5 linked regions of the Homo sapiens genome follow. The protein of the gene in region 3 purifies or fractionates together with the protein of the main gene of each other region. This does not show direct contact. Each region holds a gene or a part of one and is shown on either strand. Other genes may lie near its edges.

What was found.
Region 1: the proteins of INSL6 (region 3) and RMND5B purify together in Homo sapiens (affinity purification with mass spectrometry; one large-scale study listed by BioGRID and IntAct). This does not show direct contact.
Region 2: the proteins of INSL6 (region 3) and FSTL1 purify together in Homo sapiens (affinity purification with mass spectrometry; one large-scale study listed by BioGRID and IntAct). This does not show direct contact.
Region 4: the proteins of INSL6 (region 3) and FREM2 purify together in Homo sapiens (affinity purification with mass spectrometry; one large-scale study listed by BioGRID and IntAct). This does not show direct contact.
Region 5: the proteins of INSL6 (region 3) and TRIM44 purify together in Homo sapiens (co-immunoprecipitation; one large-scale study listed by IntAct). This does not show direct contact.

What each region holds. Positions count from the first base shown.
Region 1 is NC_000005.10:178,139,661-178,145,453, forward strand, and holds part of RMND5B (E3 ubiquitin-protein transferase RMND5B), read left to right. Parts: intron 1-2,922; coding exon 2,923-3,068; intron 3,069-3,191; coding exon 3,192-3,332; intron 3,333-3,966; coding exon 3,967-4,067; intron 4,068-4,281; coding exon 4,282-4,448; intron 4,449-5,793. UniProt on the Homo sapiens protein: Core component of the CTLH E3 ubiquitin-protein ligase complex that selectively accepts ubiquitin from UBE2H and mediates ubiquitination and subsequent proteasomal degradation of the transcription factor HBP1.
Region 2 is NC_000003.12:120,400,942-120,406,734, reverse strand, and holds part of FSTL1 (follistatin-related protein 1 precursor), read left to right. Parts: intron 1-1,763; coding exon 1,764-1,882; intron 1,883-3,380; coding exon 3,381-3,493; intron 3,494-3,816; coding exon 3,817-3,927; intron 3,928-5,793.
Region 3 is NC_000009.12:5,181,435-5,187,969, reverse strand, and holds the start of INSL6 (insulin-like peptide INSL6 precursor), read left to right. Parts: upstream 1-2,330; 5' UTR 2,331-2,367; coding exon 2,368-2,656; intron 2,657-6,535. UniProt on the Homo sapiens protein: May have a role in sperm development and fertilization.
Region 4 is NC_000013.11:38,692,701-38,698,493, reverse strand, and holds part of FREM2 (FRAS1-related extracellular matrix protein 2 precursor), read right to left. Parts: intron 797-5,793; coding exon 707-796; intron 1-706. UniProt on the Homo sapiens protein: Extracellular matrix protein required for maintenance of the integrity of the skin epithelium and for maintenance of renal epithelia. Required for epidermal adhesion. Involved in the development of eyelids and the anterior segment of the eyeballs.
Region 5 is NC_000011.10:35,660,484-35,666,755, forward strand, and holds the start of TRIM44 (tripartite motif-containing protein 44), read left to right. Parts: upstream 1-2,291; 5' UTR 2,292-2,628; coding exon 2,629-3,297; intron 3,298-6,272. UniProt on the Homo sapiens protein: May play a role in the process of differentiation and maturation of neuronal cells. May regulate the activity of TRIM17. Is a negative regulator of PAX6 expression.

The sequences.
Region 1 (5,793 bases), on a different chromosome or scaffold from region 3:
AGCCTCGCAAGTTGCTGGGTTTACAGGCCCGTACCACCATGCCTGGCTAATTTTTTTTTTTTTTTTTTTGGATTTTTAGTAGAGACAGGGTTTTGCCATGTTGGCCAGGCTGGTCTCGAACTCCCGATCTCAGGTGATCCACCTGCCTCAGCCTCCCAAAGTGCTGGGATTACAGGTGTGAGCCACCATGCCCGGCTGTTCAGGAATTTTCATAAAGCATTTTAATTTCCAGTCCAAGAACCAATCCAAGATCACACACTGCATTTAGTTTCTCCTGTCTAATCTTTACTTTTTTTAATCTGAGACATTTCTTCTGTCTTCCTTTATCTTCCATGACATTGGTATTTTTGAAGCATTAAGGCCAATTATTTTGCAGAACGTCTCTCAATTTGGAGTTGTCTGATGTTTTCTCATTACTTAGGTTTTGCATTTTTGGCAGTACTTCAGAAGTGATTTGTTTCTCAGTGCATCACACTGGAAGACACAAGATGTTGCTTTATTGCATTATTGCTGTTGTTCACTTTTATTTTGGAGACAAGTTCTCACTTTGTTGCCCAGGCTGCAGTGCAGTGGCACGATCTTGGCTCACTGCAGGCTTGACCTCCTGGGCTCAAGTGATCCTACCACCTCAGCCTCAGAAGTAGCTGGGACCACAGCAGTACACTACCAGGCCCTGCTAATTTTTTTTTTTTTTTATTGTAGAGACAGGGTCTCCCTATGCTGTCCAAGACGGTGTCGAACTCCTGGGTTCAAGTGATCCTCCCGTGTCAGCCTCCCAAAGTGCTGGGATTATGATCCGCTGCACCTGGCCTGATCTTCACTTTGATCACTTAGTTAAGATGGTCGCTGCTAAGGTTTTCCACTGTAAACTTCCTAATTTTTCTTTGTAATCACTAAGTAGTTTGTGGGCTGTAATCCTAGCACTTTGGGAGGCTGAGGCGGGCGGATCACTCGAGCCCAGGAGGTTGAGACCAGGCTGGTCAACATGGCAAAACCACATCTCTACTAAAAATACAAAAATTAGCCGGGCATGGTGGCACATGCCTGTAGTCCCAGCTACTTGGGAGGCTGAGGCATGAGAATCGCTTGAACCCAGGAGGTGGAGGTTGCAGCGAGCCAAGATCGCGCCACTGCATTCCAGCATGGGTGACAAAGCGAGACTGTCTCAAAAAAAAAAAAAAAGTAGTTTGTGGGGAGATACTTTGATACCATATAAATGTCCTGCTCTTTACCAAATTTCAGCCTACTAGTTTTAGTATCCATTAATGATTGTTGTGTGAATTATTACTAAGCTGTCTGCAACATGGTGATTTTTCCTGCTTTGTCATTCTTTATACATTTATTAGTTGACATTCAACTGAAAAGAAGCTTTCCCTTCTCCTTTCATTATTATCACTTCACACTCATATTCTTATTTTATTCAATAGGTTATAATCCATTGCAGTTATTTAATGTTCAAATTGTCTTAGGTCTGACCAGAGGGAGTCCCTGGTTCCTATGTCTTTTTTAAAAATTGAGCTATAATTCACTTACCATTAAACTCACTCTTTTAAAGTACTCTGTCCAGGTGCAGTGGCTCATGCCTGTAATCCCAGCACTTTGGGAGGCTGAGGCAGGTGGATCACCTAAGGTCAGGAGTTCGAGACCAGCCTGGCCAACATGGTGAAACCCTGTCTGTACTAAAAAATACAAAAATTAGCTGGGCGTGGTGTCATGTACCTGTAATCCCAGCTACTCAAGAGGCTGAGGCAGGAGAATCGCTTGAACCCAGGAGGCAGAGGTTGCAGTGAGCCAAGATTAAGTCACTGCACTCCAGCCTGGGTGACAGAGCAAGACTCTGTATCAAAATAAATAAATAAAGTACAACTCTGGATGGGCATGGTGGCTTATGTCTGTAATCCCAGCACTTTGGGAACTTGAGGCGGGTAGATTGCTTGAGTCCGGGAGTTTGAGACCAGTCTGGGTAATATGGTAACCCTGTCTACCAAAAATACAGGTATTAGCCAGTCTCATAACTCGGTCTCAAAATAAATAAATACATACATACATAGATGAAAATTTAAAAAATAAAGTCCAACTCAGCGGTTTTCAGCATATTTACAGAGTTGTACAATCTTCACCACTATCTAATTTCAGAACATTTTCATCACCCCCAAAAGAAACCTAACCCATTGACTGTCTCTCCATTTCCTCCCTCTCCCTAGCCTCTGGCAACCACTAATCTCTTTTTTGTCTCTATAGATTTGCCTATTTTGGACAGTTCATATACAAGGAATCATACCACATGTAGCCTTTTGTGTCCGGCTTCTTTGATTAATAGAATGTTTTCAAGGCTCATCTATGCTGTAGCCTGTATCAGCACTTCATTCCTTTCTATGGCTGAATAATAGTCCACTGTAGGGATGTGCCATGTTTTTCCACTAGCTGATGGACATTTGGGTTGTTTCCACCTTCTGGCTATTATAAATATTGCTGCTATAAATATTCACTTACAAGTTTTTGTGTGGACATATGTTTTTATTTCTTCTGGTATATCCTTCGGAGTGGAACTGCTGGATCAGGTGGTAACTCTAGGTCTAACCTGGCAGTTAAACAGAATCCTATGCATGCTGTAGTCCATGAGTTGAAATAAACACTTGACCCATAGTAAGTGCCAGATCATCTTCATTTCACAGCAACCAGTAATTTCACAGATGAGGAAATGAAGGCTCCCAGAGGTGAACTGGCTTTTCCCATTTGAGCAGTTCCAAGTCAGACAGTTAAAAAGTGGCAGGACCTGGAAGAGAAGCTAGTTCTTTCACCCTGGCATTCAGGGCTGCCTCCTGGGCTACGGGGCTGGCATTTAGAATAGAGCTAAGGTCTGCTGCCAAGGCAGGTGCCCCAGTCTGCCTCCTCTGTGTCCTTATTCCACTTTCTCTGCAGCCCTCCAGGGGACCCCTCTCTCAGCCACCCTCTCTCTGGTGATGTCACAGTGCTGCCGGAAGATCAAAGATACGGTGCAGAAACTGGCTTCGGACCATAAGGACATTCACAGCAGTGTATCCCGAGTGGGCAAAGCCATTGACAGGGTGAGCACGTGGCCGGCTCCAGGCGTGGGGTGGGAGCACCCTGAAGCTGGGATGTACAAGGACTCGAAGGAGAGCCAGCAAGAGTGCCCGCATCACCAGGCCCTGTCTCTCCTCCTTCGTCAGAACTTCGACTCTGAGATCTGTGGTGTTGTGTCAGATGCGGTGTGGGACGCGCGGGAACAGCAGCAGCAGATCCTGCAGATGGCCATCGTGGAACACCTGTATCAGCAGGGCATGCTCAGCGTGGCCGAGGAGCTGTGCCAGGTACAGTCGGGCTGGGCGGGCGCAACAACCTGCCTGCTCTGCCTTTCACCTGCTAGTTTTCACTGTATGAAGTCCCTACCATTCTCAAATCCATTTATTTCCTAAAGGAAATCAGCACCTCTGCCAGAAGCAGAAGGTAGCTTTAAAAACATATATGATGAAAAGAGAAGTTACTCATTTTTAGTTAGAGTTGGTTGCCAGCCAGGGCTCTGAGCTGAGGCCTCATATCCCTTTATTGAAAAGGGAGCTGAGTGAAATGACAAAGTAGTACTTGTTAGGTGTTAAAGACACACTGGTGGTAAAAGTAAAAGATTTTCCCTACTGTACTAGGAGGATTGAAGAGGAGTAATTTTCTCGCCATGCAACTCAGTGCGTAGCCTGGGGACTGTCTCCACTGCTACGGTTGTGGGGTGGGGTCTGCAGTCTGCACTCGAGGTCAGCATGTCATACTCAGCCTCCCCAGGACTGAGATGGGAACAAGAGAGGCCCAAGTGGCTGGCAGGAGACCAAGCTCCTCAAGCAAAGCCCAGCTCTCTGGCCTGTCTTTGGCGGGTGAGCTTTTATTATGTGCATAGCAGAGAACTTTGGAAACACCATCTTCCAGTGGTGGGATCTCTTCTCTCTCTCCTTGTAGGAATCAACGCTGAATGTGGACTTGGATTTCAAGCAGCCTTTCCTAGAGTTGAATCGAATCCTGGAAGCCCTGCACGAACAAGACCTGGGTCCTGCGTTGGAGTAAGGAGGCCCTTGGGTGGGCCAGCAGCATTCTGCTTCGACCTCTCAGGGCACAGGGCTTGACTGTGGTCTTCATTTCACCCAGATGTACTTGACTTGCCTGCAGCCCTGTCTCAAGAGCCTCACACAGGCTTTTGGGGCCCTCCTCTCAGGTGCTGGCTCTCAGGTCCTAGCCCCCACCAGCTCTACACTAAACTGGCCCCTTTCTTCCCAGATGGGCCGTCTCCCACAGGCAGCGCCTGCTGGAACTCAACAGCTCCCTGGAGTTCAAGCTGCACCGACTGCACTTCATCCGCCTCTTGGCAGGAGGCCCCGCGAAGCAGCTGGAGGCCCTCAGCTATGCTCGGCACTTCCAGCCCTTTGCTCGGCTGCACCAGCGGGGTGAGTGCCCAGGCAGCTGGGGTTGTGCTGCCTGGCCTGACACATGTCTGGATGTGGTAGGTTACATCAGGCTGCCAGTCCCTGCACCCATGTGGGGCTGTCTGTTACACAGATGCCTCTCCCCAACTAGAAACTTCTCTGACCCCTCGTGTCCAGGATGAACTCTAGACTCCTCCTCTCTCACATCTGCCATACCTTTAGTTTATAGCTTCAGCGCAGACCACCCAGGGTCCTCGTGCCTGCTATGCGCCACACCACACTCATTTAGAGCATGCCATGCCCGTCCCACCTGTTCTGCCTCGTATGCCTCCCTGACCTGTGTGGCCTATGGAAAAGTCCTTTAAGAAAAAAAAAAAGGCCAGGCACGGTGGCTCACGCCTGTAATCCCAATATTTTGGGAGGCCGAGGTGGGCGGATCATGAGGTCCATCTTGGCTAACATGGTAAAACCCCATCTCTACTAAAAATACAAAAAAAATTAGCTGGGCGTTGTGGCGGGCGTTTGTAGTCCCAGCTACTAGGCTGAAGCAGGAGAATGGCATGAACCCGGGAGGCGGAGCTTGATCGCGCCACTGCACTCCAGCCTGGGTGACAGAGTGAGACTCCGTCTCAGAAAAAAAAAAAAAGACTTGTCTGGGTGCGATGGCTCATGCCTGTAATTGCAGCACTTTGGGAGGCCAAAGCAAAGGGCGGATCACTTGAGCTGGAGACCAGCCTTGGCAACATGGGGAACCCCTGCCCCTGCTCCCATCTCTACAAAAAATAAAATAAAAAAGACTCAGTTGAGCACTCTTCCTGTCATGCTAGAATTTCCAAACCTGGAATCTGAGTCTCACCTATGCTTACAAGTAGTAACCTGTACTAACTTGTTTTTTTAGTTCCACCTCATATTTATTATTTTAAATTTTATCTCAAAATAAATATGAAAACCAAGCCATGATTTATTATTTATTTTTGAGACAAAGTCTCACTCTGTTGCCCAGGCTGGAGTGCAGTAAGTGGTGTGATCCCGGCTCACTGCAACCTCCACCTCCCAGGTTCAAGCGATTCTCCTGCCTCAGCCTCCCGAGTAGCTGGGATTACAAATGCCTGACACCGGCCGGGCATGATGGCTCACACCTGTAATCCCAGCACTTTGGGAGGCTGAGGCGGGTGGATCATGAGGTCAAGAGATCGAGACCATCCTGGCCAACATGGTGAAACCCCATCTCTACTAAAAATATGAAAAATTAGCCGGGCGTGGTGGCGGGCACCTGTAGTCCCAGCTACCCGGGAGGCTGAGGTAGGATAATCACTTGAACCCGGGAAGCGGAGGCTGCAGTGAACCGAGATTGTGCCACTGCCCT
Region 2 (5,793 bases), on a different chromosome or scaffold from region 3:
TGGTTCATGGTCCATGATTAGGACCTCACAGGCAGACCCCCCAGGCATTCCAGGCTATTTCTGGGGCAGGCACCAGAATTCTGTGTTCCTGTGGATTCTACATACAACTCTGGCCTGGGGAGGCCCAACTGGACCCTCATGAGTTGAGAAAGCACATGGGCTGGACCTTCCCCCAGCTGCAGGCCTTATTCTAGTCCTACTGAAGTGTGTGTACACAGCACTGCCTTTTGAGAGCTGCCTGGACTGTGGTTGCCAGGTTCATGGTGCCCACTTGGGCCATGTGGCACTGGGTCTGTAGCTAGTGCTGGACGTTTCCCCTCCCTACACTCATTCCATCATCAGGCCCTGATGACACTGGAGTCTTTGAGGGTTGCTGTCATTTACCCAGCACATGCAATATTTGAACTCAAGAAAGCCCTGTGCTACTAACAATGGCCCCCAGCCAAACTTATTTAATTATTTTCCATTAATTAATCAAGACTTCACAAGGTAAACAGGGAAGTTTCGTCAGGGAAAATTGTATAGTGAATAAAGGACATCAGAGACCTGTTCCTAGGAATTAGGACAAGAATGATAAGTACGTACTAAGCAAAGGCCTAATAGTTGTTTCATGCACACCTTCATTATACAACATTAGAGTGGAACACCTGTGACACATGGCAAGCAGGAGAGGAGAGTTGTTAGCTACATCTTCCCCTTCTATCTAGAAATTTGGATAGATGTTTCTTCCAGAATCCCTTGCACCATCTGGGGAGCCATCTTGAAAGTAACATGGGGAAGCTGATCCTTTCCCAGGGCAGCAGCATGAGGGAGCCTAGGGAAAGGATTTGGGAGGAAGGGGGAAAATGTTATTGAAATTTGTTAGGAGAGCAGCCATATGCAACTTGGAATTTGATCAGTCTTGATTTGACACCCTCCTCCTGCAGCTAGTGCCTGGGTGTCTTGAATGGTCCCAGATGGCTGAGGTCTCAGTTTAGCATCTTGCCATAGAGAACAGTGTGTGAGCTTACTGCACTCCTCACTTTGTGCTTGTGGGATGCCAGCTGGGTCATGAGGGCAGCCTGAGCTGGATGATCTGAGGACCTGTGCACACATCTGCAGTGGGGCCCACAGGGCAGAGGAGCGGGAACTTTGCATGATGACCCCTGTCTGTAGCTTATTGCTTTGAGGCCTTTGCCTGAGTTCTCACTGATGTGATCAGTTACGGGCACCAAAGTGAAAGTTAAGCACTGAGAACAGGACAAGGAGGCTGGAATCAAGCAACAAGATTTGGAATCCTATAATTCCAAAGTGAGCTCAGAGGGTCATCTGCATTGCTGCTGTTCCTGAGCAGCTCATTAGAAACATATTCTGGGACCTGCTACAGAGATTCTGATTCACAGCGTGCAACTTTAAACTCTTGTTACATGTTCATCAGGGCTTGAGAACATGATGTGCAGGTTGGTCTGAACCCAAAGGTATAGTCAAAAGTGTCTACAGGGCAGTGTCAGAGATGGGGCCACACAGCATGCTTAGGGACCCCAGAGGCCTCAGTTCAGGTTGCCTCCTCTGCCCAGGCACTTTTCCTCTCTCATTGTGGGCACAGGTACCTTCTCTGCATGTCCCAGGGATTAGAGCATTTGTTGCCAAGGCCCTCTGAGGTCAGGGCAGGGTTGGAATGTATCAAGAACAAGATGAATCAGAGGCAGGTCAGCTGAGTGGAGTAATGATGGAACAGGGGTTCTGCAAAACATCCCTGAACGATCTTGTCATGCCCTTTCTAGAACTTTGATAATGGTGATTCTCGCCTGGACTCCAGTGAATTCCTGAAGTTTGTGGAACAGAATGAAACTGCCATCAATATTACAACGTATCCAGACCAGGAGAACAACAAGTTGCTTAGGTGAGAGGAACCGAGAGGTCAGAGAATGATCCACAAGGGAAGACTAACTGAGAGAGGGGACTTAAACCCTTTCCCACCTGCAAAAGAGCCACCAGTGAGAGAATGTCACGTAAAAAGCAAAATGGGAATTCTGTCCTGTTCTATTCTATGAAAGTATGAATTAATATATTGAGTACCACTGATATCTAATCAAATAGTTATTGTTTTTGGTCAGAACTTGCAAGGACTAGAAGAATATAATTTTAAAATAAATTGCCAAGGGCACGTCAGAGCAAGTTATTTCTGAATGTTGTGGGTGATGTTTTACTGATTAATTTTCTGAAGGAATTACAGTAATGTATTATTTAACTATAGGTCTAAAATAGCTTTGTTCTGATTTTTAGATAATTAGTGCTATTTCATGTCAATTGCCCTAACTGTTACAGATATATGCCCGTCTACTTTTATGGCATTATTCCAGAATCAATATTAATAAAAACTAATCGCTAAGAAACTTTTGATGTGGTTTCAGCACATCGGTAAGAATTAAAAATAGGAAAAGCATGTCTTTTTTTCAAAAGAAGTGCATTGCACAGTTTCTAGAAGGATTCTTCTTTAATAATAGTCTATGACCTTAAAGTATAGGTTCTGTAAATCCTTCATATTTTGATAATCTGAAATTATATGTTTTATAATTTCAACGTTTGAGCCTCATGATATCCCAGTGAAGGAGGGCTTCTTGTCCTCCTTTTACGGATGGGAAGACAGGCTCAGAAAAGTTGAATAACTAACTCAAGTCCATTTGAGTAGTAAGTGATTGAGCCAGGGCTCAAATACAGCCCAAGAAAGAAGTGATGGAGCTGAGTTTTTTTTTGTTTGTTTTGTTTTTTGTTTTTTTTTGTTTTTGTTTTTGTTTTGTTTTGTTTTTGTTTTTTTTTTTTTTTTTTTTTTTTGAGACGGAGTCTCGCTCTGTCGCCCAGGCTGGAGTGCAGTGGCGGGATCTCGGCTCACTGCAAGCTGATGGAGCTGAGTTCTAAAAGCTTTTCTGAAAATCTCTTTCTAGAAGGATGATAATGGTGATTCTTGCTTGAACTTCATATTCTTTCAAATCCTATATTCCTTTCATGTCATCTGTCATATCTCTTCTGTTTTGATTTTCCTAGTTTGGTTGACTTGACGTGTATATACCATGGGGAAAAGCAATTGCTAGTGGAAGGTATGCAGGCAGTGAAAACATTAGACAAAACCATTCACGAAACTTTAGTCATCTTAAGGGGGGGAACATTTGGACAGCCTGGGTGATCTGACATTCATATAACAAACTAAAGGTTAGATGCCTGCATTGGTCAGGATGGATAATAGTTGTGTTGGGTCAGTGTAGAGAGAGGCTGTTTTAGTTAGCAGTCATCTTCTTGGCCTCCTGTGGAGGCCCTGGGTGTATGTGGTCCTGATGCTTACTTCCTTTCTTCTGAGCGAAGCTGAGGTCTTGCTAACACATTTCTCCTGTGTTTTGTTTCAGGGGACTCTGTGTTGATGCTCTCATTGAACTGTCTGATGAAAATGCTGATTGGAAACTCAGCTTCCAAGAGTTTCTCAAGTGCCTCAACCCATCTTTCAACCCTCCTGAGAAGAGTATGCCTAACCTAAGAAATAGAGAGCTGTAGTGAATGGAGGCATTTTGTAGGAGCCAAGATAGAGAGGATTGGTGGAACTCTCCAGAGCTAGCTGAGAAAATCCCCTTCCATGATTCTAAACTGGGCCCCAGCCCATTCTCCCCATGGTGAAGTTAGGGCCCCACATTCTTTAGGTTGATGGTAGTGTTTGCTCAGATATAGTGCTTCTGAGGGACAGGCAGGTCTTGTCTGGGAAAAAAGGGTAAGGTGCACAGACTGTAGCAAAGATGCCCTGTTCCACCCTCACAGCTAAACTGTTGCCCCGTATTTCTGGCCCAACAGAGTGTGCCCTGGAGGATGAAACGTATGCAGATGGAGCTGAGACCGAGGTGGACTGTAACCGCTGTGTCTGTGCCTGTGGAAATTGGGTCTGTACAGCCATGACCTGTGACGGTGAGCTGTGCTTCAAGCAGAAAGAAAAAACAGCAAGGAGAGAGCTTCATGAAATCAGCATGAGAGAAGTTGGGGTGGGGATGATGGAGAAGAGGGCGGTGGCTGGGAGCAAGGAACCCAGGCAGACCCACACCTGTAAGGTTGGAGCCCCAAGTGGGGAGCTTTGAGGGCAGAACATTTATCCCATAGGCATTCAGTTTGAAAATCACTCCAGAGGCTTGGAATAAGAGAGGACCAAGACCCTGGGCAAAAGTAAATGATAATGGAATAGTAACATTATGGAAATAGTAACAGTGAAAGTAGTAATAATGGAATAATAATTAAAAATAGTAATTATTTAATAATTAAAACATTAAAATAAAAACAATAATTATTATTTAATAATAATCAAAAATAATAATGGAATAGTAACAGTGAAAGCAAATACTCAGCAAAAACCATGTGCCAGGCTCTCTTCTAAGCACTTTACATATTAACCCATTGATCCTTATAACACCTTAGGAAATGGTAAAAGACTAGTGGTTGGAAGACAAAATGACTTCTCCTTGCCATACCCAGCAGAAAAAGAAAATATGTTTGTAGACCCTCTTTCAACTAACAGAGATGGGTAATCTTTTTTAAAAAGAGAAAGTTGAGCTAGTTGAGATATGTGCAGGGTGGTCTGGGGAGACAGAGAAATCTGAGAGTTTGTGGGGCAGTGTGAGGCTACAGGGTATGTTGGAACCACTGGAGTCCCATCTGGGTCCTGGGCTACAATGATGCCAAAGATCAAGAGGGACTCTTAAAGCCGAGCCCTAGCAAAGAACCAGGGATATTCAGAGTGGAGGCAAGACAGAGAAGGGTGTTGAAGCCAGGTCTGCAACGGAGAATTGCCTTAAGGTCATTTGGAACCAGGCCGAAAAGTTTCACCAGCTAGGGTGAACCTAAAGTTATATCAGCCAGGCGCAGTGGCTTATGCCTATAATCCCAACACTTGGGGAGGCCAAAGTGGGAAGCCCAGGAGTTCAAGACCAGCCTTGCCAACATAGCGAGACCATGTCCCTACAAAAATGTGAAAATTAGGCAGGCGTGATGGCACGTGCCTGTAGTCCCAGCTACTTGGGAGGCTGAAGTGGGAGGATCACCTGAGCCTGGGAGGTTGAGGCTGCCATGAGCCATAGTCACGCCACTGCATTCTAGCCTGGACAACAGAGCAAGACCTTGTCTTAAAAAAAAAAAAAAAGTTTATTTTAAGAAGTTAACTGTGTCAAGGAAGAGCTGGCTGGAACCTAAGATAATGTTCAGGAAGATCAGGTTAAATGGTAACTAGGAGACAGAGGTCAGAAACCCAGGATGAGGCTCTTCTAGACAAGGATCCTAGAGAACAGCAACAGTATAAATGGCCCAGTACTATCTAAGGTATCACTGGTCTACCGCTGCCCAGGACCAAGTCTGTTTTCAGTGTGGAACGACAGCAAACCAATGTAACTACAGGGACAGGTGAAGGAACAGGAAGAGGCTGTTTAGAGACTAGAAATTCCTACAAGTTCCTAGAAGTCAAGACCAAGCCAGGATCTCCAGACCAAACACAGAGTTGCTACTGAAACCAACAAAACACATCTCAAAACAGTCAGTGGCCTAGCCTGCCTCAACCATGAAGCATCCTATACTTGTCTTCCCTAAACTCCCTTCAGTACCTCTCCGCTTCTAACTGCTGCTGTTCTGGCTTTGTAAAGGTAGCCCTCCATTTCTAAGGTGCAGGCAGTTGGTATGCAGTTGGCTTATAGAATAAGCATGGTCATTTGGATAATAATCTCTATCACATGCATCAGACAAAATTCAAATGATCAGCTTCATGGGATGTTGCCCATTTCCACAGCCACTCAG
Region 3 (6,535 bases):
TTCTCTCTCAGCACTGTGTTTGCTGCATACCATAAATTTTGGTATGTTGTGTTTCCATTTTGGAGTTTTTGAGATGGAGTCTCACTCTGTCACACAGGCTGGAGTGCAGTGATGCCCTCTCAGCTCACTGCAACCTCCGCTTCCCAGGTTCAAGCCATTCTCCTGCCTCAGCCTCCTGAGCAGCAGGGATTACAGGTGCCTGCCACCACACCTGACTAATTTTTCGTATTTTTAGTAGAGACAGGGTTTCACCATGTTGGCCAGGCTGGTCTTGAGCTCTTGGCCTCAAGTGATCCACTCACCTCAGCCTCCCAAAGTGCTGGGATTACAGGCATGAGCCACTGAGCCCAGCCTGTCTCAAGATATTTTTTAAACTCCCTTTATATTTCTTCTTTGACCCACTGGTAGTTAGGAACATGTTCTTTAATTTCCACATATTTGTGAGTTTTCAAAAGTTCCTCCTTTTATTGATTTCTACTTTCATTCCATTGTGGCCAGAAAAGATATTTGATATTATTTTATTCTTCTAAATTTATTAGGACTTGCTTTGTAGCATAACATATGATCTATTCTGGTGAATGTTCTCTGTGCATTTTAGAAGAATGCGTATTCTGTTGCTGTTGGATGGAATGTCCCATAAATATCTGTTAGCTCCACTTGTTCCAAAGTATAGTTCAAGTCTTTTGATGAGTCTCTTGTGGGCAGTATATAGTTGAGTCTTTTTTTTTTTATCCATTCAGCCCTGTTTTTTGATCAAAGAACATAATCCATTTACATTCAAAGTAGTTATTGATGGGTTAGAATTTACTACTGCATTTTGTTAATTGTTTAGTGGTTATTTTGTAGATCCTTTGTTCTTTTCTTTTTCTCTTGTTCTCTTTGTGATTAGATGATATCCTGTAGTGGTATGCTTGATTTCTTCTTTTTTATCTTTTATATATCTACTATAGGTTTTGCCTTGTGGTTACCACAAGGCTTACATTCATCTCAGTATGATTAATATTTTCCGTTCTCAAAAACCTTACCTGATAAAGTTCTGACTAGGACTCATGGCCCACTATAGTTTGGACATAAGTTATTTTTTAAGGAAGGTGATTAAATTTTACTAATCTATATTATATCAACCATTTAAAAAATCCAATTGGCAGTTAATTTAACAGCATTCATGGATGCCACTGGGAAGCAGGGAAAAGATAGGGAAACGGAAAATTAAGAAAAAGACATAGAGTCAGAAGACAGAAAAGAAAGGGAGAAAAAAATAAAATTGTATAGGGAAATGGTGAGATCACTGATAAGCTTGCACCTGTGGCTTCAGCATCCTGAACCTTATTCCTGAGACAGCCACCGAATGCCCTCTTGTGGCCGATAGTACATCCTTCCACGCCAACACACTAGTAACACAGAACTTCATTTAAAATGATAAAGCTACCTATGCCGATTGCGCTTCGCTTCCCTGCCCCTTCCCTCCTAACTGAGCAAAATTATCTCACCTAAATGAGCATTTCATGCTGCATGCTGTTATTCTTACAAGGCAAATCCTCTAGGGGTCCCTGTCACAAGTTAATTTGGTAATACACAATCCTCTACATTATCTAACCGAAAGAACCAGATTTCCATCCCAGGTACCTCAAGACAGCGTCCCTACTTCTTTTTTCTGGAGATTGAGGCTAAGGCCCATGCCTCCCTGTGAACCAGTAGGATTTTTCTGAAGAAGCTTTGAACCTGACTAAACGCACATGGCCATATGCAACACTTAAACGTTTCACCACATATTTGATTGCCAGCTAAATGCCAGATCCCGGGGTACGATGGAAAGCAAGAACAGACGCAGGCCCTTGCCTTCATGAAGCGGGGGTCTCAGGAAAGAGGTTACACGCCCACAAATGGAAACAGGTCGATTAACACCGTGAAAGAGATGACAGGGGGTTTCTGTGAGGGAGACGAAGCTTTATTAACAACCTGGCAAACAAGAACGAGAAACGCATTCCAGGTGGAGGGAGCAACACTTTTTAACCTACGTTATCAGGTAACAGGGATCCTATGTTCTCACGCTTGGTGAGGAATCTCCCATTGAGGAAGGAAAGAAAAATGAATCAAACTAGGGGGTGGCGGGGTAGTGAGGGGATTTTTGGCTTTCATTTTAGGAGCCAGGGCCTGCTACCTTCGACCACCTGAGACCCCTGAGCTGGCGGGAAAGCCTTGACGCAGCCGGCGCGCGCCTTCCCTTGAAGTTCTGGCGACGCCCCCACGCGCTCGGAATTCCGCAGTGTTTGTGCGCGCCGCTCGGCCTGGCGCAGGCGCAGACAGGGAGCAGGGTCCGGCCGACCGCCATTGCACAACGCGGAGGACTAGCCTGGGGTCACAGGGATGCCGCGGCTCCTCCGCTTGTCCCTGCTGTGGCTTGGACTCCTGCTGGTTCGGTTTTCTCGTGAACTGAGCGACATCAGCAGTGCCAGGAAGCTGTGCGGCAGGTACTTGGTGAAAGAAATAGAAAAACTCTGCGGCCATGCCAACTGGAGCCAGTTCCGTTTCGAGGAGGAAACCCCTTTCTCACGGTTGATTGCACAGGCCTCGGAGAAGGTCGAAGCCTACAGCCCATACCAGTTCGAAAGCCCGCAAACCGCTTCCCCGGCCCGGGGAAGAGGCACAAACCCAGGTAAAAATCGAAACCGAAGGCATGTTTGTTCACCTCTGTATATTTCTTATTCCTGCATTTGCTCTGCCAGAAGGTGAGCTTCCCCAGGAAGTGGAATTTGTGCCTAGTACACAGCTCTTTAAAAAATTGTAAAAAACAGTGTATTGAAAATATACAAAACTTCAATGAAGCGCTTTTTTTTTTAACTTGGAGGAAATAAATGTACACTTGTAAGTCTACATATTTATGTAAGAATGTTGTTCTTTTCTGGAGTGCCAGTCATCTGGCAAACTCCTTTTTGTCCTTCAAAGCCCAACTTAAGTATCATTTTCCCTGTGAAGTCATCATTGACCTTTTCATGGCCAATGGCTCCATTGTCCTTTCTACCACAGTATCTAGCACATAGTTGTATTTGACTGTCGTCATTGGCTACAGAATCAGCCCAACCTTGTAGAAGATAAAAATGCAGAGTACCTTGTTCAAAAAAGCAGGAAAGGGCCATGAAAATAAAGGTAGTAAAATATAAAACTGTTTTCCTTACTTGTCCATATCCCCTGGTCACGTACCAGGAGATAGGCCTGGTCCGTTCTCCTATCAGGCTTCATTTAAGAGTTTACGTACTTGTATTTCATTCACTTAAAGTTTCAAAGGTAAATTTATTCAGAACAACAAAGGAACATTTAAACCAAATGCAAGGCCTGTGTGACTACATAGGTTTCAGTCCCATAAAGTCAGCCCTATATACCATACTGTATTATAGGGACTATTTCATGCATATTTTTGTCTGAAATGCTTAGCAGATGGCCTAGCACATCGCATGTGTTTAATATGCGCTGAATTTATACTTGATGCTTTCAAGCAGTCTGCAGGAAGGATATTCTTGTTCCAGATTCATTGGTATATCTTACTATGTTTTTACATTTTGTGACTAAGACATTTTAGTCCCAGTATGATTTGTCATTTTAAAAGAAATTGCACTTTGTTTATAGTGTATCCATAGGAAGAAGATTACTGCCTTTTACAGTAATTCAGTTGATTTGATTTGGACAAATCTTGTAAAAGTGAAGATTTCTGAAATTAAGGAAATGAGTAAACTATCATGCCAAAAAGAGACCCTAATGTAGAGGACTGAAAAAAGTCAAACAATGCACATTGTAGGCACTCATTAGCTTTTTTGGAATGAATGAATAGAATTTATAAAGTCACTGTTGCTGAAAGAATAAAAACTTTTAAAGACAGAAACCATGAGACTGATTCATGATCATTTTCAAACCGACCCATCAAACTAACCCACATACAAACCTCACCTTGTCCTTCTGTTATAATGAAGGAAGTGTCTCTCCCCAGTCTTCTACTTTTACTTTAGTTCAGTGACTCTCACGCTTTAATGTGCATATGAATCATTTGGGAATCCTGTTAATTTACCGACTCTGAGTTAGTAGACCTGGGGTGGGGCCTGATATTTTTCGTTTTTAACTAGCTCCCAGGTGCTGCTAGTTCGTGGCCCACACTTTTGAGTAACAAGGTCCAGTTTACTGTCTGTCTCTCTCTTTTTTTTTTCTTTTAAACTCCTCTTTCTTGTTCTTTTCTCCCAGGAGTGCAAGGAGAGCCTTCCCTTTCTGCTTTATGTTGGGTGGGCATTTCTCTCACATCAAATACTGTGCTTTCACTACCTATGCTATAATACTGTAGTCAAAATTTTATTTTTAGACCTCCAAGCTTGAGGCTGTTATTTAAAGAGAGGTTGGAATGCCTTTTCTCAACAAAGTGCTCTAAAGACAGTTTTCTTAATAAAAATGTTCAACCTTAAAACTCAGCTTGTTAATGATCCTTTTGTTTTAAGTATTATTCACACTCCCCTGGAAGAATAAATGTCATTAATAATGAGCAGGAAGCTGCAATGAAACAAGACTTGTAGAAAATAAAAATGTATCTGAAAATATTTGAAAATTGTTATACCCACAAAACCTGCTACTATGGAAACTATGTAAAAGACAGTTTGCTGAAGTGGAAATACTATGTAACAGTAAAACCACAGTTGTATTGAAATATGTAGAGGAAGGAAAAATGGGTTAGGTTATCAACATGAATTGTATTATAATTTTAAAAATTATTAATCTATAAGGGAAGATGACATTTATTCTGTCCTGTTAATTTCTAGGAAATAATTTAGAAGTTGCAGAGATGTATATGTTTCTAATATAGAATACATAATTATGACATCATTTTTATATATGAATATGGCTGGAAAGTTGATTACTTTTTATTTCACTTTTACCAGCAGGACAAGTTGTTGTGTTAGATCAAGTCAGTTGTCTGAAATTTTAATATCCTGATGATCTACTTGAGTCTGACACAGAAAAATATAATTTGCTACGCTGCTATTAAAAAATGCTTTTTTTCAAAGCTACTTATACATATCTTGAATCTGTAATTGTGTGCTTCTTGTTAATGGACCCTGAAGGTGGAGGCAGTATCTCCAAGACCTACCCCGTAATGTGGCACCATGAAGTTGACATCATATTTCTAAATTACGACTGAGTATTGTGCTTCCGAGATATTAGTGCCAGGTGAAATCATTAATGTTTCAAAATCAGCTTTTCATAATCTGTAACCCCTATTCCAGTTAGATTAATCATATTCCCATATTCTTAGTCTTCATGTCACATATTCTTGTTTTTTTTGTTTCTTTATGTTTCAGATATCATCACAACTAGTCTGTAAAGGGCCCTTCTCTTTATATATTAGTTCAACAAAATTTGAGTACCTATCATGTGTTAGGCACTCTTCTTGGTGATTGGGATGTTAGAGTAAACGGTGAAGGCTCCTACCCTCATGAAGCCTACAGAATAGTAAAGATAGACAATTAACATAAGTAAATTATAATTTACAGAAGGTGATTATCCTCACTTAGCCCCTTTCTCCACTCCCATTCTCCTCCTCTCCTTGGCAATTGTTGTAATGTGTTTATTATATATTTTTTGTTTTTATAAGTTTTTGCAAATTATGCATTCTTTCCTGTTCATATGTTTTAAGATATATCTAAAAGGCATTTAAGATCTATATCTTATTGTTGCTATGTGAACATTTAGTCCATTGCTTCTAACTACTGCATAATACTCATGTGCATTCCTCACATTTTACTGATTTATTCAGTTTTGAACACCTAACCTATGTAGCCTTGAACTCCCTACCACTACAGATAACACTGCCATGAACATCATTGTATGTGTCCCCTTATGAACCTAGAAGTGTTTCTGGGATACACATCTAGAGTGGAATTGCTGTGTCATGAAGTATGTGTATGTTTAATTTGCCTGAGGAGTATCAGATTGCTCTTCAGAGTGACTACACCAATGTATAGTTGCACCACCAATCCTGTGTCCTCATATCTATGTCAACAATTAGCATTATACAGTTATTAACTTTTACCAGTGTAATAGATGTAAAATGACACTATATTTCTATTTTAACTTGCTCTGGGTCTGAACATCTTTTCATATACATGTTAACCTTTTGGATTTTCTCTTAAAATTTCCTGTTTATATATTTTGCCCAATTCTTGTTGGAATTGTTATCATTTTCCAGTTGGTTTATAGGAGTTAATCAAATCTAGATACAGTAACAACTAGTTGTTGGTTTTAGATGTCACAAATATGTTCTCCCATTTTGACATCTGTCTATTGCTGTTGCTTGACAGAAAGCCTTAACTTTTATATAATTAAGCAGTAAGTGTTTTGCCTTATGTATTAGAGGTCCTTTTCTGTCCTTCTGTTAACTTTTCAGTTTTACTTTTCACATTAAGTCCTTAATTATTAGGCTAATTTTTAGTTCTGGTCTCGGTAGGAATATTACCTCACTTTCTCAGTAAGTCTTTTTTTCTCTACATAGGGAGCTAGT
Region 4 (5,793 bases), on a different chromosome or scaffold from region 3:
TTAGGAAGACAAGAGATCCAAAGCTGAAAGGAGTATAAACAGCAGGCAGTTCTGGGGGAGTAATGAGAATAATATCGCCCAAAAGACTTAGCTCAGAAGTCACATCCTATACTCTGAAGTATTCTTCACACTTAACCAAGAAAAATTTTTAGCTGGACTAGGTCACAAAATCCCCCAAACTAAGAAAATCATTAGAAGTCCTGAGATTGGTGAGATAAAACAGACATTAATTTACTACTGATTTCTTGGTGAATGCAACACATTTTCCATCAGTATTAGTCCACACAGAACCCATGAGCAAATCAGGAAAAAGCAGCTCCTTTGGGCAGCTACACCTCAGTGAGCACATGGCTATGAGTGGAACTGCAGCTGAATTCCAACATCCTCTTACTGACTCAAGTAGGCAAACTCATGCAGGGTGTAATCTGAACAACTAGACATGGAGATCCTATTTATACAGATCTCTCTCTTTAGTGCTTTACAAATAGTAAGACAAAAGTGATATAACTAGAACTTTTATCTATAGCCATGACATAGTAGGATTGTGTCATAGTGAGATTGTAAAATTGTCTACAGCAAATACCAGGTTAAATTTAGGTGATCATGAAATATTACTTGATGAAGACTTCTTGTAATAATGTCATCAGAGAGCAACCAAGAAAAGCGTCTCTCCTTGCGGTCACTACCAGGAGAGGGGAATACTTACCACCATCTTCAACTGCAAAATAGAACATATCACTTGTGGCATTAGCCCCTTCTCTTAAGACATAGCATATTTTCATGTCATCAATGTCAGCTAGAAAATAACCAAAAAACAAGATGATTAATTACCAGAGTAAAATTGATGATTCATTATGGTAAATTTTATTGGCTATTAGTTTTCCTATAAACATGTTTAAATTCCTTTTTCCTCCTAACAGAAACAGTGCTGTCTTATTTCTCAGATCTCTAAGCCCCTAGATTTCAGCTGTCCCATGGACACCTGATCCCTCACACAGATAAATACAGTGCAAGAGTTAGTTTATAATAATAGCAAGGTGTTTCCCCTCCCAGTGGTATTTGCATGTTCATGCACCAAAGGAATGACTGTCTAAATATGGAATGTCAGGCACCATGACAGGTGGAAAGGAAGATATTTTGAGGCATGGCAGATTTCCTGGCACTCTTGAAATCACATCCTTTGCCTCCCAGTAGGGAACTGGCCCGCAGAGGACAGAGCTTTGCTCCCCAACACTGGCTAACTTTTCTTACTTTTTGTGCTGTAGCAGGCTATTTTTTAAGCTCTCCAAAGTTTGAGAGAAAAAAATAAGATGATATTTTCAAAAAATCACACACATTGAAATAACTGATGACTCCCTGTTGAGAACAAAAAACATCTAATAAAAGTGGAAACGGGCTGGACACGGTGGCTCATGCGTATAATCCCAGCACTTTGGGAGGCTGAGGCAGGTGGATTATGTGAGGTCAGGAGTTCAAGACCAGCCTGGCCAACATGGTGAAACCCTGTCTCTATTAAAAATTGGCTGGGTGTGGTGGTGCGTTCCTGTAATCCCAGCTATTCGGGAGGCTGAGGCAGGAGAATTGCTTGAGCCTGGGAGGCAAAGGTTGCAGTGAGCTGAGGTCGCACCACTGCACTCTAGCCTGGGCAAGAGAATGAGACCCTGTCTCAAAAAAAAAAAAAAAGTGGAAACCTTTATTCATGGCAGAAAGTTATATTGCCTCAGAAATGTTCCTTATGTTGTTTCCTACTTTATCAAATTCACATGCATACATTTGTTTTCATTATGAAGACACAATTTTTAAAACTTATTCATCCATCTTACCAGTTCCTTTCCTTAATGATGCCACACATACAACATAATAAGAAAAAAATCGTTTTGTTCTGTGATACTCATAATAGATCATTAATTGATCTGGGCCAATCAGTGAGTTTCTAAGACTACATAAAGTCAAGATCATGGCTAAAAATAGCTATGACAATGATAGGTAATATTTATCTGTCTAGTGTGTGTTCTATGGTTTTTTCATCTCCTAAAAGCTCTAGTAAGTTCATGCTATGGAATTCAAAGGCTTATAAAGAAGACAATGGCTTTATGAAATGTTAATCTCAAGTGAGGCAAGGCATTAGGATGGACCAATGATGCCACAAATTTCTATAGCTCCACTTTACAGATGTAAAATGTGTGGTCTACCCTGGCTCATAAAGTTTTGAAAGGTGACTCATTATTAGGAACACTTGCAGAATGGAAAATCTGATTTTATAGTTAATGGTACCCTCCTGCTAATAGAGGTATTTGGAGGTAAAACATGCCTAAGTCGCTTGATTCTCCCTTAGCACTTCATTTGTTTTTTAAAACAAAATATAGATATGTGGGTCTCACTATGTCGCCCAGGCTGGCCTCAAGCAATCCTCCCACATCAGCCTCCCAAAGTGCTATGATTATAGGTGTAAGCCACCTAGCCAGGCCCCATATTTCTAACTCTACTATAACTTTCCACACTTGCTGCCTAGTTTCACTTTTATCTTTCTGTATGGTTATCTTTCCCAGTAGATGAAAAACTTCTGGGATTTTTTTTTCCTATCTTAACTTCCCACAGCTCTTTGCTTAGGATATTACAGTAGCAAAGGCGCAAATGTTTCTCAATTTAAAATGAAAAGGCTGAGTAGGTAGATCACACTTGTATCTCTACCTTTGCATGTATGATGTTTCTGCCAGGGTAAGAACTGAAGCCCCTACACAACTCTTTGCCTGTTTACTGTTATAATTCTTAATTGTATAACCTTCACTTTATCAGTAAAAAAATGCAGTAAACTCTGCTGACTACACATCTTTACCACAAGAACCATGACCTCTGGCCATGTGGAGAAGACCCTCTTCCAATGTTCCCACCCCTTCAAATTGCATAAGAAAATCTAAAGGCTCTACTAGGAGAAAAGGCACTGTTTAGCATGCCCAGCATCTGTATCAATGTTTTCTTAAGCGAAATTGTAATCGTTAAGGGATAGTTTCATTGAAATAAATCCTCACTTCAAAACAGAATTTTAAGAACTTTTCTTTTTTCAGATAAAGAAAACATAAATGCAACTATATGGCACTCTGGTACCCAATTTTCCCTCCAAGTTAGGGCATGTGTTATTGATTAGTTGGAACATACTAAAACCTTTTATATTTTTCATATAATTAATTAATAATTCATGGTTCAAAAAAGAGCCTCTAAAAAAAGTAAGTAAAGACTTTCATCATCATACTGGTATTCTAAAGGCACCTCTACAAATAACATAAACACACGTTACATATTTATGTATATATAAATGTAATAACGTCTAGCTTTCTTAAGACACAAAAGTAGTAGAAATATAATCTAATAGCCAAAATGTAATCTTTTTAAAGCAAATATCTAAGAATTATCTAGATTTTCTTCTAGTTGTTAAATATACATTAAATTTATTTCAGTTTATCTACAAAATTATTCCATGAGATTTTTTTGTTTGTTTGTTTTTAATTCTAAGTTCATTAACATATCAGGCAGCCACATCTGGTTCAAACTCTTTGAAGACATTTCTGCTTTCCTGAAACTGGCTTATAAATTATCCCACAGAATATATCATTACGTACTTATTGTAGGGAAGAAAAATCCAGGTACTTGAGACATGCAATTTAGATCTGGGTTAAGGGGAACAGGGGCAACTTGGCAAAGAGGTGAAGTTTGAAATAAATAAATGATATCCATAATTTACCTAATTATACATTGTTAACTTTTCATCAATTTAATAAGTTTTAGAAAGGAATTAATTTTTTTCTTCTAGGAACCATTTAGTCAATCAATTTAGGAATAACCTTCTCTAGCTACCTGTGCTAAACTGACCTAATTCAATGCATTGAAAATCCATCAAAATATAGGTTTACCTTATCCCTTCATGATAAAGCAAAAACAAAAAGAAATAAAAGGACTGCATAGTCTTCACTCTTAAGCACTGCTTTCATTTCTCCTAGTGGAAAAAGAGCCATGGTAGCTTTCTGATGGCGCTTTCTCCGTTTTTTAAATCACTTATCTAATCTCCATAAATAACAGCTACGGATCAAAGTCTAGCCTTGACTTGTTTGAATGAGTGCCATGTGATTGAATACCAACAGCTTCCCTAGTCAATATTTTGGTTTATATTGGAATGTGATAATTTTCCTTAAAAATTCTTAAAAAGTCACATCACATAATAAGCATAACTTCTCTACATTTACAAAGATGACAAAAATTAATCATGGTGACTCAAAGTCAGTAAGAGAAAGAACAACTGCCTATAATGAAATAGCATAATTTTTAGAGTTCAAAATTTCAGAAATAATATTCTAATATTGTGAGCTGTTGGACTTAGTCCACAGAATTTAAATTAAATCATTTGCCTGTCTTCATCAAAATAGTCCTTTTAAAAATCTCTAAATCAGATTTCTTTTTCAGGTCAGAGGAGTAATTTGAAGAACCATTTTCTATTATCTAATATATTCCTTTCATTCTCTTCCCTCTCCATGAAAATAAACCAGTGTAAGACGGCATGGCATCGCTAGCCTCAGAAAGCCTTCACATAAAAGTTTCCTACTGGTCTGGCATGACACTTGGCACTTTGAGGTTTTCCTGTCCCTGCAGGCCCTGGGAGACATTCAGGCTTTTAGCCAAGAATCAGGAGGTTGGAGTGTGGAGCTATTTGCCAGCACCTCAAACAGAGAAGTAGTCCACTTTAACAGTGCATTTTGCTACTTCCATGTTTATTAAAGCATTTGTTATCTAAGAGTACAACACAGTTGCAGGAAAAGAACACCCCCACTGGGATGCCCTGGGGTTAAGCTCCATCTCTACCCATGGATCCCACATAGGAAAGATCTAGTGTCCATTCTGACATGGTGAGATTTTCATGAAAGCAACCCAAATCCCACTGTAATGAAAGTTGCATGTTCTGCAGAACGGAGCCCTGACTCCCAAGCCAGTATAGTGAATGGGCTTCTCCCTTCCCTCACTAAATAACTCTGCATAGGACACTTGTCCTTTCTGCCTCAGATTGTGTCCACCCACAAAGGAAATTCAGGTTAGAAAAATCCTGTTGCCTAAAGACCGCAGGTGCCTGAAGCAACTGTTTTTTGTCACTGTGTTTGCAACAGGTCAGAGAGGAGGTTCACAATGATGAAATAATTTCCCCCTTCTAATATTAAGCTTGTCTACTTATCTTCATGCTCTTAATAATGAATTAGATGTATATTTTGGTGATGAACATATTGTTATTTTACACATCTTTAAGTATACTTTCCTTTTTCATGTATATCCTAGTAGCATGCCCTGTAAATATCATTGTTATAACTCTAGATAGGTGTTTATCAATTACGTCTCTGGATGAGTATTTGCCTGTCATGAAATATTATTAACAATTTTAAAAATCAACAAAGTAAATAAATGTAAACAAATCTTTTAGTTACAAAGTTCCTAACAACTATAACCGTGTCAGAGCAATGCTCTTAAAATTTATTCAAAGTAACCTAAGTTTGAAGGCTTTTTTGGAATGGTAATTGATAATGACAGCAATGTGAATAAACAGTATTTAGAAAGCACATCCTTCATTAAGGTGCCAAAATGCTTCATGAACCACCTGCAGCATACAACACAGAGGATGCGTTGGATAGGTATGGCAAATGGAGCAGAATTGGAAAGCCTGCTTCGATTTTAATTCACCAAAGTTCACCTCCTGCTTCGGCAGCCTATCCTTGCCACTTTCAAAATACATCAGTACTCCCTCTAATGAAGGCCACT
Region 5 (6,272 bases), on a different chromosome or scaffold from region 3:
GAGCAAGACTCCATCTTAAAAAAAAAAAGTTTAATCTGTCTGCCTCTAAGACCCTTTCTCCACAGAGTGCTCAAGAAGAATTGTAAAGTGTCAGATACTGAACTGCACAGTATTATATTTTAACTTTCTGTCAGATAACATTAAGAAGAAACAGTAATAACAATAATGATGACATGACTCCCCCTCCCCTCATCAAATACCCTGGATACAACAATGTCCTTTTAAGATATTAAAAAGGCCAGGCCTGTGGCTCACACCTATAATCCCAGCACTTTGGGAGCCTGAGGTGGGAGGATCACTTGAGTCCAGGAGTTCAAGACCAGTCTGGGCAACATAGTGAGACCCCGTCTCTACAAAAAATACCAAAACAAGTAGTGGGGCTTAGTGGCTCACGCCTGTGGTCCTAGCTACTTGGGAGGCACTTGGGAGGACTGCTTGAGCCCAAGAGGCTGAGGCTGCAGTGAACTGTGATTGAACCACTGCACTCCTGCCTGGGCAACAGAGAGAGACCCTGTCACCAAAAAAAAAAATAAATAAAAAAAATAAAAATTATTTTCATTGAATAAAAGACTTTCTAAATGTGAGAACGTTATGTTTGTAAAGGCTAAGTTGTTTCCTTTTAAGCCTGGGGGAGGACAGGAGTAGAAATAACCAAGCAAGGCACACTTCTCATTAGGTATATTAACGTTGATGTTTGAGTTGACATTTGTTGAATTTTTTTTTTCAGAATGGTGCTTCAATTCATGTTTCAAAAGCAGACACAGAAATAATTTCCAGAGAAATGAGCTGGGGGAAAACAGAAATGTGTATGGAATTGGAACAAAATAAACCTGATTTTTTTCAACATTGTATAGAATTGTTCTGAGGTTAAAAAGAAAGGTTTCTAAAAAATAAATATCTAACAAAAGCTGCACAAAGATTAGGCATACATTATCCATGGAGACATTAAAAACTATTAAAAAGGTTTTTTTACCCCACCTCATCCCCTGGTATGTTTGAGGAAAGCATCTGGAAATTCTAACTCAAAATCATCTAAGGGAATCAATGTAAAACAGACACCATTCCATCCCCTTTCATCCTTCTTAATACACCTCAGCCTCTCCCTTGACTAGATAAAAACGTAATTTTCCCTCTCCCAAATACAGTGCAAAACAAAAACTCTTCTGTGAATGGAGAGACATGGATATGGGGTAGAGGTGGAGACTTGCCTACATTACCAGCAGCCAGCCGAAAATGCCCTGTGTGTGTAAAATATGTTCCTTCAAAGGGGCATTGTGAGCACTAAATATAATTTGTGCCAAAAATAATAATGAAAGCTTAGTGAATACTCTACAGTGCAGGCATCGTTACATTTAATCCACAAAACTACCCCATGAGGTAGATATTTACCGTTCTTTTCACTTAACATCTTTTTTAAAAAGCGGAAAACAGAATGATGAATTAACTTGTCCATGGTCATAAAACTGATAGGTAGTGGCACCAGGATTTGGGGACCATCGGGCAGAGGATCTTCCAAAACCGGCTTTTAAAGAGCCACAAAAAGATGTAGCCGGGTTCTTGGCACTACAGTACTGCTTTATAAACAACAGTTCCCTTCTTTTCTCTTAGAGCCCAGTGGGAATCTAGAGGGACACCTTACATAAAGGAAAATGACTGCAACCTGGACCTGTCACTCGACAAATACTGCCTCTCCCCACCTCACTTCACCTGACGTCTCTGCCCAACCGAAGGCAGCTCTCAGAAAACCGCACAGAGGTTACCACCCCAGAAATTCTGAGATCCTAGGAGGTAGCAATGCAAATAGACAAAGCACAGTATTGCTTTGGATCGAAAATATTTGTTTGCTCATCCTAACTCCAATTCCCCTAGCCTAGAACAAACATAGCCCTTCCGCACTCAGGAAATCCCAAGAGGTCAGGTTCAGTCTGGTAAACAACACTGTCCGGGCACCTTGCAGAACACTGGGGACTGTGACGGGCGGCGACAAATTGGCACAAGAGAGACTGAAATGCACAGGGACACCAGCCTAGTGGCCGTGAAAACTCAAGTTGACACTTCCAGGGAGGGAATGGGGGAGGTGGAGCCCAATTCCTGCTTCTGGAGAGAGTAAGAGACTTCCTCCATCCTCCTTCTCCCTCCTCCTCCTCCAAGGCACGCTGAGATTTGGAGCGGAGGAGCTGAGCCCCGCGGGAAAAGCAGAAAAGGGTCATTGCCACTTTAAATGACTCAGGAAGTAAAAGGAGGCCTCCTGACGGGGAAAGGGAAAGTGGAACCGGGGCGGCGCGGGGGCCGGCGGCTGCCGCGATCTCTCCCTGGTAGCGGGAGGCTGAGCGGGCGGCGCGACGCGGGGGCCGACGGGGGCGCCGGGTGGCCGCGCCGGAAGTGCCTTGCGCGGCAGAGGAAGCGCAGGGACAGAGCGGAGCAGGCCGAGCCGGCGGAAAGGGTCTTTGCTGCTGCGCCCGGGCAGGGGCTGCCGCGGCCCCAGGTCCCGCTTCGAGACGCGGCGCGGTCCAGGCGGGAGGCGACTCCCTAGGAAGGGACCCGGGGCGGGAGGAGGAAGTGAGGCCGCGCGGAAGGAAGGCGGCGAGCCCCGGGGCCCCGAGGCCTTGGCCGCGTCACAGCACCCACATGGCCTCTGGAGTGGGCGCGGCCTTCGAGGAACTGCCTCACGACGGCACGTGTGACGAGTGCGAGCCCGACGAGGCTCCGGGGGCCGAGGAAGTGTGCCGAGAATGCGGCTTCTGCTACTGCCGCCGCCATGCCGAGGCGCACAGGCAGAAGTTCCTCAGTCACCATCTGGCCGAATACGTCCACGGCTCCCAGGCCTGGACCCCGCCAGCTGACGGAGAGGGGGCGGGGAAGGAAGAAGCGGAGGTCAAGGTGGAGCAGGAGAGGGAGATAGAAAGCGAGGCAGGGGAAGAGAGTGAGTCGGAGGAAGAGAGCGAGTCAGAGGAAGAGAGCGAGACAGAGGAAGAGAGTGAGGATGAGAGCGATGAGGAGAGTGAAGAAGACAGCGAGGAAGAAATGGAGGATGAGCAAGAAAGCGAGGCCGAAGAAGACAACCAAGAAGAAGGGGAATCCGAGGCGGAGGGAGAAACTGAGGCAGAAAGTGAATTTGACCCAGAAATAGAAATGGAAGCAGAGAGAGTGGCCAAGAGGAAGTGTCCGGACCATGGGCTTGATTTGAGTACCTATTGCCAGGAAGATAGGCAGCTCATCTGTGTCCTGTGTCCAGTCATTGGGGCTCACCAGGGCCACCAACTCTCCACCCTAGACGAAGCCTTTGAAGAATTAAGAGTAAGTATTGGGCCTTCAGAGCATAAACCTAGGGGTCAGGACACCTGGGTTTCAACTCAGGTGGCCTGGCTGTGACCACATTCGCTTTCACTGTGTCCCTAAGAAGCTAGTCTTTCCAACTTTTTGGGAGCAGTTCTTATTCACCGTTTTTGGTTGAACTCTTTTGAGAATCTGATGAAAGTTCTGGACTCTGACCTGAGAAAATACACACAAAATCTAGTATACAATTTCTAGAAAATTGCAAGTTTCTGGTCTGTGGATCCCAGGTAAAGCATTTCTTGGGAGTTTTGACCCCACTTAGGCCAATTTCCACAGCATCACTATTGTTGAAACTGGTGCTTTGTGCTAGGGCTCTTGATAAGGCAATCTTTTTGCCTACTTGAAAACATGGGAAATAGGATTTTGCCACATGAATCCAAGCAAGTGATACGTCTGCATTGAAAAGACTAACAAAATAGTTTTAATAGTAACTTCATATGTGCCCCGAGTTCATTTTAGATTCTTCGTGTTTGAAACTTAGTAGAAAAGGAGGGTAAGAAGATGGAGGCCAAATTGGGGTGGGAGTGGAAGTTCCCATGTCCTCTGTCTGGATCTTTGTCTGTCGTGGACCTTACTGGTCCCCCAGAACAGTGGACACTTCGGAAATATTTGTTGAATGAATGAATTTGCAGACGATGCACCTTTTATTCATATTGTGGATGTTTACTATCATTGAGAGAAACTGCTGGTGTTAATCGGGGAGGGAGGGGGAAATTTTGAGTGGAGTGATCAGTTCATTAAGTAATCTGTATTAGTGAACATTGTCATATTATGATGACTTTTGCTTCCCTGAATAGGGAATAGCTGGCATTGGGATAACAAATACCTTGAGAGTGAAGATCCTCTGTATTAGGTTTTCCCTTTTTTAGTGCCTATTTATAATTGTAAAATGCACATTCAGAAAGTGTGTAAAAACTTACAGTCTAACAAATAATTATAAAACAAGTACTGAGGTAGTCTCCATCCAGATTAAGAAATAGAACATTACTAGCAATATTGAAGCCTTTTCCCCATACCTTTTCCAATTATAACCATCTCTCTTCTGCATAAGTAAGCATAATCTTGACTTCTGTGATCATTTCCTTGCTTACCTTTATGCTTTTACTCCATGTGTATGCATTCCTAAACTTATTTGAACTTGACACTATGGGTGTCATATTTTTATCATGCATTCTTCTGGGTTTTGCTTCATTTTCTCAACATTGTGTTTGTGAGAGTCATCCTATGAGTGACTGTAGTTTATTCACTTTCATTACTATTTCGAATTCCATTTTATGAATATGCCACAAGTTATCTATTCTGTCATAGATGGTCATTTGATTTGTTCCCAGGTTTGGGAGCGTCGGGCTGTTACAAACAATGTCAGTGTAAATATTCTTGGTCATGTCTCGGTGTACATTTAACATACATTTAAGTGGAATATAAACGCAGGAGTGAAATTGCTGTGTCAGAGGCTATGCATATCTTCAGTAATACTACATGTTGCCAACTATTTTCCAGAGTGGTTGTACCAGTTTGAATCACTATGAAGAGTATATGAGAGTTCCTGTTGCTCTGTATCTTCAAAACTTGCTATTACTGTATTTTTCATTTTTGTCAATCTTGTGGCTATGTAATGGTATTTTATTGTGGTTTTAATTTTCATTCCTCTGATTACTAATGACTTTGAGGATCTTTTATACTTCCTCTGTGAAGTACCTAGTCAGTTCTTTTGCCCATTTTTCTATTGAGTTGTCTTTTCTCATTATATGAGTTTTTATATATCTGTTTTTTTTTTTTTTTTTTTTTTTTTTGAGATAGAGTCTTGCTCTGTTGCCCAGGCTGGAGTACAGTGGCTAGATCTCAGCTCACTGGAACCTGCGCCTCCCAGGTTCAAACGATTCTCCTGCCTCAGCCATCTGAGTAGCTGGGATTACAGGCACATGCCACAATGCCTAGCTAATTTTTGTATTTTTTTTTTAGTAGAGATGTTTTTGCCATGTTGACCAGGCTGGTCTTGAACTCCTGACCTCAGGTGATCTGCCTGCCAAAGTGTTGGGATTATAGGTGTTAGCCACTGTGCCCAGCTATATATTTGTTTCTGATTTTTTTTGTTGTTCTTTCTATGTGGGTTGCAAATATCTTCTATGTGGTTTTTCTTTTTAAAGAAGTTGTGCCTTGAATAGAAGCTCTTCATTTTAATGTGGTAAAACTTATCAATACTTTTCCTTATGGTTAGTGCTTTTTGTGTCTTGTTCTACTTAGTATTGATTTTTGTGTAGTAGAAGTAGGGGCGCAATTTCATTTTTTCTCCATACAGATGGCCAATTGCTATTGCTGTATTTATTGAAAAGCCCTTCCTTTGTGCACTGATTTGCTGTCCCACTGTCATATATCAAGTGCCCATAATATGTGTGAATGTGTTTCTTGGTTCTTCTGTTCTCTACTGTTTATCTGTTAGTATATCCCTGTGTGAACAGCATGTTTTCTCAGTTATCCCTTTATAATATGTCTTAATATCTGGTAAAGCAGGTCCTTCCATCTTGTCCTACAAGAGTGTGTTGGCCAGTTTTGGCACTTTACATTTCTTAGAATCATAGTATTAAAAAGCCTGCAGGAGTGTATTTGGATATTAAATTTATAAGCCAATATAGGGAGAATTAATATCATTACAACATGAAGTCTTCTGATTCATTAATTTAGGTCTTTTTTATTGCTTCGCAGTTAAGTTTTATATTTTTTTCCTCAAAGATTTTTCACATCATTGTAAAATTTATTCCTAGATACTTCATAATTTTATAATATTGTAGAAAATATGAGCCAGGCACAGTGGCTCACACCTGTCAGCTATATGGAAGGCTGAGGTGGGAGGATTGCTTCAGTCTAGGAGTTTGAGGCTGCAGTGAGTTATGATCCTGCCATTTCCCTCCAGCCTGGTCGACACGGCAAGACCCTAT